Linked DNA regions of Homo sapiens: region 1 is linked to region 2. Evidence: fine-mapped expression QTL. A gene starts in region 2. The other region holds a variant in brackets. All regions are shown on one strand. Distances are from middle to middle. Region 1 overlaps LIM2 (lens intrinsic membrane protein 2). Region 2 holds the start of SIGLEC10-AS1 (SIGLEC10 antisense RNA 1).

What was found. PIP is the estimated chance that this variant, and not a neighbour inherited with it, causes the effect. A credible set is the group of variants that fine-mapping cannot tell apart.
Region 1: its variant is the best candidate, but not a certain one, in a credible set for the expression of SIGLEC10-AS1 in whole blood (INTERVAL, PIP 0.89).

Annotation. Positions count from the first base shown.
Region 1 is chr19:51,380,975-51,385,355 of GRCh38, reverse strand. LIM2 (lens intrinsic membrane protein 2) reads left to right here. Exons shown (of 5, transcript NM_001161748.2): 3 at 2,789-2,938. Among named protein-coding and RNA genes, the nearest start is that of LIM2-AS1, 3.9 kb to the left of the region's middle. The variant A/C (reference allele first, on the strand shown) is at 1,895.
Region 2 is chr19:51,413,389-51,417,769 of GRCh38, reverse strand. It overlaps SIGLEC10-AS1 (SIGLEC10 antisense RNA 1), which reads right to left and starts at 2,046. Exons shown (of 3, transcript NR_164125.1): 1 at 1,638-2,046; 2 at 1,040-1,341; 3 at 1-638. SIGLEC10 (sialic acid binding Ig like lectin 10) reads left to right here and starts at 128. Exons shown (of 11, transcript NM_033130.5): 1 at 128-225; 2 at 305-688; 3 at 820-1,104; 4 at 1,413-1,460; 5 at 1,603-1,872; 6 at 2,155-2,202; 7 at 2,332-2,589; 8 at 2,662-2,946; 9 at 3,255-3,348; 10 at 3,947-4,058. The coding sequence starts at 189. RefSeq lists an enhancer at 29-198.

The DNA.
Region 1 (4,381 bases), 32 kb after region 2:
GAGACAGGATTTGACCATGTTGGCCAGGCTGGTCTCGAACTCCTGACCTCAGGTGATCCACCCGCCTCGGCCTCCCAAAGTGCTGGGATTATAGGCATGAGCCACCGAACTTGGCCTCATTATTTCATTTGATTTGATTTTTGTAGAGACAGCATCTCACTGTATTGCCCAGGCTTGTTTCAAACTCCCGGCTTCAGATGGACGTGGTGGCTCAGCCTGGAATCCCAGCACTTCGGGAGGCTGAGGTAGGAGGATCACTTGAGCCTAGGTGTTTGAGACCAGCCTGTGCAACGTAAGGAGACCCCATCTCAACAAAAAATAAAAAATTAGCTGGGCGTGGTGGTGTGCTCCCGTGGCCCCAGCTGCTCAGAAGGCTGAAGTGGGAGGATCACTTGAGCCCAGAAGTTTAAGGCTGCAGTGAGCTAAGATAGAGCCACTGCACTCCAGCCTGGGTGACAGAGCAAGACCCTGTCTCAAAAAATAATAATAAGATAAAATAAATAATCAAAAAGAAACCCTCCTGGCCTCAAGCAATCCTCCTGCCTCGGCCTCCCAAAGTGCTGGGATTCCAGGCCTGAGCCGCTGTGACCAGCCTGAATTAGTGTGCTAGGGATGCCATAAAAAAGCCCCACAGACTGGGTGGCTTGAACAACAGAAACGTGTTGTCTCACAGTTCTGGAGGCCGAGATGAAGATGTGGGCAAAATCAGTTCCTTCTGAGGGCTGTGAGGGAGAATCTGTTCCATGTCCCTCCCTCCCTGGCTTCTGGTGATTTTCTGGGAATCTTTGGTGTTTCTTGGTTTGGAGATGCATCACCCCAATTTCTACCTTCCTCACACATGGCATTTTTCCTAAAAGCATGTCTGTGTCCAGATTCCTCTTTTTATAAGGACGGCAGTCTTTGTTTTATGTTTTGTTTTGTTTTTGAGTTGGAGTCTCGCTCTGCCACCCAGGCTGGAGGGCAGTGGAATGATCTTGGCTCACTGCAACCTCCACCTCCCGGGTTCAAGTGATTCTCCTGCCTCAGCCTCCTGAGTAGCTGGGATTACAGGTGCCCACCACCAAGCCTGGCTAATTTTTGTATTTTTAGTAGAGACAGGGTTTCTCCATTTTGGCTAGGCTGGTCTCAAACTCCTGACCTCAGGTGATCCACCTGCCTTGGCTTCCCAAAGTGCTGGGATTACACTGGGCAGGAGCCACCACACCCAGCCCAGTCTTTGGATTAGAGCCCCACCCTACTCTAGCATGATCTCGTCTTAACTAATTATATTTGCAAAGACTCTATTGCCAAATAAGTTACCATTCTAAGGCACTAGTTACAATTTCAACATAAACATTTGAGGCGGGGGACAGAAAGGCATAACCCATAAAATCCATGGAGAAACAGCCAGGAATTTCTCTCACCGAGGCTTCTACAAGGCAGAAGACTGGGTTTTACAAAGATCCTAGACTTTTTACTTTTCAATGGCAAGATGCAAGGTTTGAGGTGCACCATTTCCCAGGTGCTCCAGCAGACAGAATAGCCAAGCAGTTAGGAGCGTGGGCCTTGGAGCTTGGATTCTGACTCCAGCCCTGTTTCTAATTATGAGACTTCGGGCAAGTCACTTTACCTCTCTGGGCCTCCATTTCTTCACTTGAAAAAGAAGCATAAAAATGGTACTTATAGAGTAGGGCTCTGGAGGAATAAACAACATCACACCTGGGTAGCGAGCCTGGCATATAGTTAGCCGTTGCTAAAGGATGAAGAGATTATTATTATCTTTCCTGAGGGGCCATCCCTGGGCAAAGCACAAGAGAAGAATGGCCCCGGTGCTCAACATTAATTCATTTCACGCATTTATTGGGCACCTATTATGCACCAGGTGTAGGTGCTGGGGACACAGTGGTGAATGAGA[A/C]AGCAAGGTGCTTGTCCTTGAGAGCTAAGGATTTACTGAGGAGAGACAGACATTATAAATAAGTTAAAAACAAGTAAATAGGACATTTTCAGATATAAGCAAGTAGTATAAAATAAATGAAAGAGTAGGCTGGGCGCAGTGGCTCACACCTGTAATCTCAGCACTTTGGGAGGCCAAGGCAGGTGGATCACTTGGGGCCAGGAGTTTGAGACCAGCCTGGCCAACATGGCAAAATGCCGTCTCTACTAAAAATACAAAAATTATCCGGGCATGGTGGTGCGCACCTGTAGTCCCAGCTACTCGGGACCCTGAGGAAGGAGAATCGTTTGAACCTCAGAGGTGGAGGCTGCAGTGAGCTGAGATTGTGCCACAGCACTTCAGCCTGGGTGGCAGAGGAAGACTCGGTCTCAAAAAAAAAAAAAAAAAAAAAAAAAGAAAAGAAAAAAAAAGAAATGTGAGAGAGAATAGTAATTAGTAGGAAAATATAAGGAATCAGCATTCATTCATTCATTCATTCAACAAACATTTCCCAAGGCCAGAATGCAAACCAAATGTGTGGTGGGGGTGTTTATGACACAGAACCAACCCACCGCCTGTCTTCAAGGAGCAATCAGGCTGGAGGGGGAGACAGACAAAGAGAGTCACAACCCTTAGCCGTGGGTGAAGATGATGACTGAGGGGTGGGGAGATGCTTCCTAGAGGATGGGTCACGGGAGCTGTGCTTTGGAGGATGAGTAGGAGTTTGCCAGGTGAAGAAGAGGGCATTTGCAAAGAAGGGAAGGATGAGCTGGGTTAGGGATATGGAAAGGGGCAAGGCATTTTCATCTCAGAGGTAGCAGCATCTCTCACTTAGAGCAGGGGAGGTGTGGGAATGACCATGGGGTGCTCCCACAGCATACTGGAATGCCACCCGGGCCTTCATGATCCTGTCTGCCCTATGCGCCATCTCCGGCATCATCATGGGCATCATGGCCTTCGCTCATCAGCCTACCTTCTCCCGCATCTCCCGGCCCTTCTCTGCTGGCATCATGTTTTTTTCCTCAAGTGAGTAAGCCCACCCTCTCCCTACCCCTCTCCTCGCTCTCATCTCAAACCCCAATCTGTCCCCACCCCTCAACACCATTCTCACCCCTTACTCCTCCTCACACTCAACCCCACCCCACCCTAATCCCATCCCCACACTCAAAACCAACCTCATGACTATTTCTAGTTCCAGTCTATTCTGACACTAGCTGGTGTACTACAGTTCAGTTCTGGCATGAATCACCTAAAATTTGTGTTTGACTCCACAGGTTAAGACCACAGTCCCTAGCAAGACTGCTTCCACCTCAGCTACAAGCTGCAAGCAGGGTGCCTGGGCCACCCATGCTTTTGATCCACTGGCTACAAACTAGGAGGTTCCCAAGACCCACTCAGATTCAAAAATTTGCTGGAGGCCGGGTGCGATGGCTCACGCCCGTAATTCCAGCACTTTGGGAGGCCGAGGCAGGTGGATCACTAGGTCAGGAGTTTGAGACTAGCCTGGCCAACATGGCGAAACCCCATCTCTACTAAAAATACAAAACAAAATTAGCCAGGCGTGGTGTCGGGCGCCTGTGGTCCCAGCTACTTGGGAGGCTGAGGCAGGAGAATGGCATGAACTCAGGAGGCGGAGCTTGCAGTGAGCTGGGATTGTGCCACTGCACTCCAGCCTGGGCGACAGAGCGAGACTCTGTCTCAACAAAAACAACAACAACAATAACAACAACAAAAATTGCTGGAATAACTCATAGAATGCAGGAAAGTGCTATACTTACAGTTATAGTTTCCTTATAGAGGACACAACTCAGGTCCAAGCAAATGAAGAGACACAGAGGGCAGAGTCTAGGAGAGCCCAAAATGCAGAGCTTCCAAGCCTTCTTCCTGTGGAGCCAGGGATCACCCTCCCAGCACACAGATGTTTTCACCAATAGGGAGCGCCACTGAGCTTCAGTGTCCAGAGGTTTTATTGGAGTCTTGTAAAATAGGCATGACTGATTGAATCGTTGGTCATTGATGGAATGCAGTTTCCAACTTCCTTTCTTCCCTGATATCAAGTGGTTCAGAGCCTCAACATATCATGGTCGGTCTTTCTTTCTTTCTTTTTTGTTCTCCTTTTTTGAGATGGAGTCTCACTCTGTCACCCAGGCTGGAGTGTAGTGGCTCGATCTCAGCTCACTGCAACCTCCACCTCCCCTCCCGGGTTCAAGTGATTCTCCTGCCTCAGCCTCCTGAGTAGCTGGGATTACAGGCACCCACCACCACACCCAGCTAATTTTTTTTTATTGTATTTTTAGTAGAGACGGGGTTTCACCATGTTGACCAGGCTGATCTTGATCTCCTGACCTCAAGTGATCCACCCTACTCAGCCTCCCAAAGTGTTGGGATGACACGCATGAGTCACTGTGCCTGACCTGGTTGGTTTTTCTGACAACCACACCCAACCCTGAGTCATCTCATCTCATTACC
Region 2 (4,381 bases):
TGGGCCGGAGAGTGTGGGGGAAGGCAAAGGAGTTCTGTGAGCTCAGCGTCTGAAGCTCATTTCATGCATCAGGCCCCAGGGCTCAGCTTCCGCCTTCGGCTTCCCCTTCTGCCAAGAGCCCTGAGCCACTCACAGCACGACCAGAGAACAGGCCTGTCTCAGGCAGGCCCTGCGCCTCCTATGCGGAGATGCTACTGCCACTGCTGCTGTCCTCGCTGCTGGGCGGTGAGTGGGCCAAGGGCCGGAAAGGACCTGGGGCGGAGCTAGGGCTGGGGTTGCAGGTTGAGCCTCTGTCTCCCCACAGGGTCCCAGGCTATGGATGGGAGATTCTGGATACGAGTGCAGGAGTCAGTGATGGTGCCGGAGGGCCTGTGCATCTCTGTGCCCTGCTCTTTCTCCTACCCCCGACAGGACTGGACAGGGTCTACCCCAGCTTATGGCTACTGGTTCAAAGCAGTGACTGAGACAACCAAGGGTGCTCCTGTGGCCACAAACCACCAGAGTCGAGAGGTGGAAATGAGCACCCGGGGCCGATTCCAGCTCACTGGGGATCCCGCCAAGGGGAACTGCTCCTTGGTGATCAGAGACGCGCAGATGCAGGATGAGTCACAGTACTTCTTTCGGGTGGAGAGAGGAAGCTATGTGAGATATAATTTCATGAACGATGGGTTCTTTCTAAAAGTAACAGGTATGGAATGGGGTGGGAACCCCTGCCTCTCACACTGGGGAGGGACCCTGGGGACAGCCTATGGGCTGAGCAGAGAGGGCTCTCAGGGACCCCTGCAGCACAAGAATCTCCCACCACGGTCTCTGTCCCAGCCCTGACTCAGAAGCCTGATGTCTACATCCCCGAGACCCTGGAGCCCGGGCAGCCGGTGACGGTCATCTGTGTGTTTAACTGGGCCTTTGAGGAATGTCCACCCCCTTCTTTCTCCTGGACGGGGGCTGCCCTCTCCTCCCAAGGAACCAAACCAACGACCTCCCACTTCTCAGTGCTCAGCTTCACGCCCAGACCCCAGGACCACAACACCGACCTCACCTGCCATGTGGACTTCTCCAGAAAGGGTGTGAGCGCACAGAGGACCGTCCGACTCCGTGTGGCCTGTGAGTGTGGCCTGGGAGGGTGGGGTGTGCAGACAGCCCCGGTGGGTGGGGAGGTGGAGGAGCCCAGTGGGACAGTGAGCGGCTCCCAGCTCAGGAGCATCCAGGGAGAGGAAGCTGTGGGGTCCCAGGATGCCGCCGCAGCCCTGGGAGGGGGATGGGAATGGCGTCTGGTCCACACACGTGAGCCCTGGCGCTGGTTGTCACTTGTCTTCCCGGGATAGTCCCACTTTCTTTTCCCTGAGGGAGTTTTTTCCAGGTGTGAGGAATAAATTGTCCCTCCCTGAAGCCAGCTCACAATCTTGTTGCAGATGCCCCCAGAGACCTTGTTATCAGCATTTCACGTGACAACACGCCAGGTACTGAGGGCCGTCGGGCTGGGGCTGGGCCAGTTGTCTTTAGATGAAAAGGCTTCAGGGGATGAGGGGATGTGCTCCTCCCTGTACCCCTTCTCTCTTTCTCCCTCCCTTTCTCTCTTTTTTTTTTTTCCTCCCACTCCAGCCCTGGAGCCCCAGCCCCAGGGAAATGTCCCATACCTGGAAGCCCAAAAAGGCCAGTTCCTGCGGCTCCTCTGTGCTGCTGACAGCCAGCCCCCTGCCACACTGAGCTGGGTCCTGCAGAACAGAGTCCTCTCCTCGTCCCATCCCTGGGGCCCTAGACCCCTGGGGCTGGAGCTGCCCGGGGTGAAGGCTGGGGATTCAGGGCGCTACACCTGCCGAGCGGAGAACAGGCTTGGCTCCCAGCAGCGAGCCCTGGACCTCTCTGTGCAGTGTGAGTGTGCCCAGCAGGGGCCTGGAGTCCATTGGGAGGGCAGAGGGATACAGGGGCTGGGCTCAGGGTCCCAGAGCTGAGGGGGCCTGGAGCCCCAGGCCTCGGAGACCGACCTTCTTACCTGTGTAGACCCTCATGCAGTTTGTGTCTGGGACTCAGTGGGTGATTCTGCCCTGCCCTTCTATCCCACCCACTTCCCCCACCTCAGTGTCCAGGATGGTTCCCTTTACCCAGAGGGAAGCCCCTGGTCCGTCTAGAGCCGGTCCCCTGTCTCCATTTCAGATCCTCCAGAGAACCTGAGAGTGATGGTTTCCCAAGCAAACAGGACAGGTAGGAAAGGGGACAGAGGAGCCAAGGCCTCTCAGTGCCGAATTGGGGGCCCAGGAGTCTGGAGGGTCCCCACGCAGGAGGGTCCCTGAGCCCTGAGCTGCTCATCGATTCTGCCTCTTCCTTCCCTAGTCCTGGAAAACCTTGGGAACGGCACGTCTCTCCCAGTACTGGAGGGCCAAAGCCTGTGCCTGGTCTGTGTCACACACAGCAGCCCCCCAGCCAGGCTGAGCTGGACCCAGAGGGGACAGGTTCTGAGCCCCTCCCAGCCCTCAGACCCCGGGGTCCTGGAGCTGCCTCGGGTTCAAGTGGAGCACGAAGGAGAGTTCACCTGCCACGCTCGGCACCCACTGGGCTCCCAGCACGTCTCTCTCAGCCTCTCCGTGCACTGTGAGTGGGGGAAAGGGGACACCTGGGTCCCAGGAAGGGGACCCTGCTGAGTCCTGTCCTCCCTCCCCTCAGACTCCCCGAAGCTGCTGGGCCCCTCCTGCTCCTGGGAGGCTGAGGGTCTGCACTGCAGCTGCTCCTCCCAGGCCAGCCCGGCCCCCTCTCTGCGCTGGTGGCTTGGGGAGGAGCTGCTGGAGGGGAACAGCAGCCAGGACTCCTTCGAGGTCACCCCCAGCTCAGCCGGGCCCTGGGCCAACAGCTCCCTGAGCCTCCATGGAGGGCTCAGCTCCGGCCTCAGGCTCCGCTGTGAGGCCTGGAACGTCCATGGGGCCCAGAGTGGATCCATCCTGCAGCTGCCAGGTTAGGGGGCCGCCTGGATGCCAAGGTTCTTGGAGGAGAAGCTGACTGGGGCAAAGAGTAGGGTCCTGTGGTTGGAGCAGGAGCTTGGAGGGACACAGCAGACCCGTGGCATCTGTATGTAGACAGGAAAACACAATGGGAAGTCCTAACACCTGGGCCGGGGTGTGGCAGGGTTTCCTAAAAGTAAACAGAGGGGTTGCAGATACAATGTCCGCCATGGGAACCGGAAGCCTTAATGCCGAGTGATGAGCGGGCTTCGTGAGCCCTGCGTGGATGGGAAATGCTCACCTTGCCCTCTCCGTGTGCAGATAAGAAGGGACTCATCTCAACGGCATTCTCCAACGGAGCGTTTCTGGGAATCGGCATCACGGCTCTTCTTTTCCTCTGCCTGGCCCTGATCATGTAGGTTAAGAGGAGGCGTGGCGGGGTCTGGGGCCTGGACCCAGGAAGAGGGGAGGTGTTGCAGGCCGAAAGAGTGAAGGTCGTGATCAACGCAGTATACCTCTGGAGGTTACATGAGTAAACAGCAAACTGTTCTCATAAATGCAGAATGTTGTCCAACTGACAAACTGCGTCTGCTTCCCAGAGGGAATGCTGAGGGCAGTCACGCCCCAAGCGAAGTGTTTCTTGTAATTAGGCACAGCTGAAGCTTGTTAGTAATAATATGAACCTGTGATCAATTAAACAGCTGACCAATTGTTACCTCCTGCTCTCTGCTCTTTCTACCCAATAAATACAAAGGGCTGTAGAGGCTCAGACAGCTGCCCTGGCTCACTAGTAGCAGGGAACCCTCTTCTTCTTCCCCTGACCCCTTCCTTTAAAATAATTTCTTTTGTCTTAAGTTTTCATTTCTACGTTTGTCCTCCTTCTTTCAGTCTCATAATGACGGTCTCAAGTGGTAACAGTAGTAACTGTCATAGTGACGGTCTCAGGTAGTAAACGTGGCAGTCTGTCACAGGGAGGTGCAGCAGGGCACAAACAGGTGGGTTCATTTCCTCAGCATGAAGATTCTACCGAAGAGACGGACTCAGACAGAAACCCCGAGGCCCAGGTTCTCCCGGCACAGCACGATCCTGGATTACATCAATGTGGTCCCGACGGCTGGCCCCCTGGTGAGTGTCTGGGCCATGCTTCCACTTTTTCTCTTCTCTAAAGCTGACATCCCACTTTCTGACTTTTGCACCCCTTGTCTTAGCGACATCAAGGTGGGAAAAGCACCGATAGTTCTGAATTCAAATCCTGCCTGGCACTTACTAGCTATGAGACCTCAGCCACGTCACTCACCCCCTCTGAGCCTTCATTTCTTCCTCTGTCTCCTTTGAGAGTTGGTTTGAGGATTAGAATACATGCACTTTCTCAATCTGTAGCCATTGTTCCATTATTACTGCCACCATTGACATGACTACACTTAACTGCTTAACAATTATGTGTATCA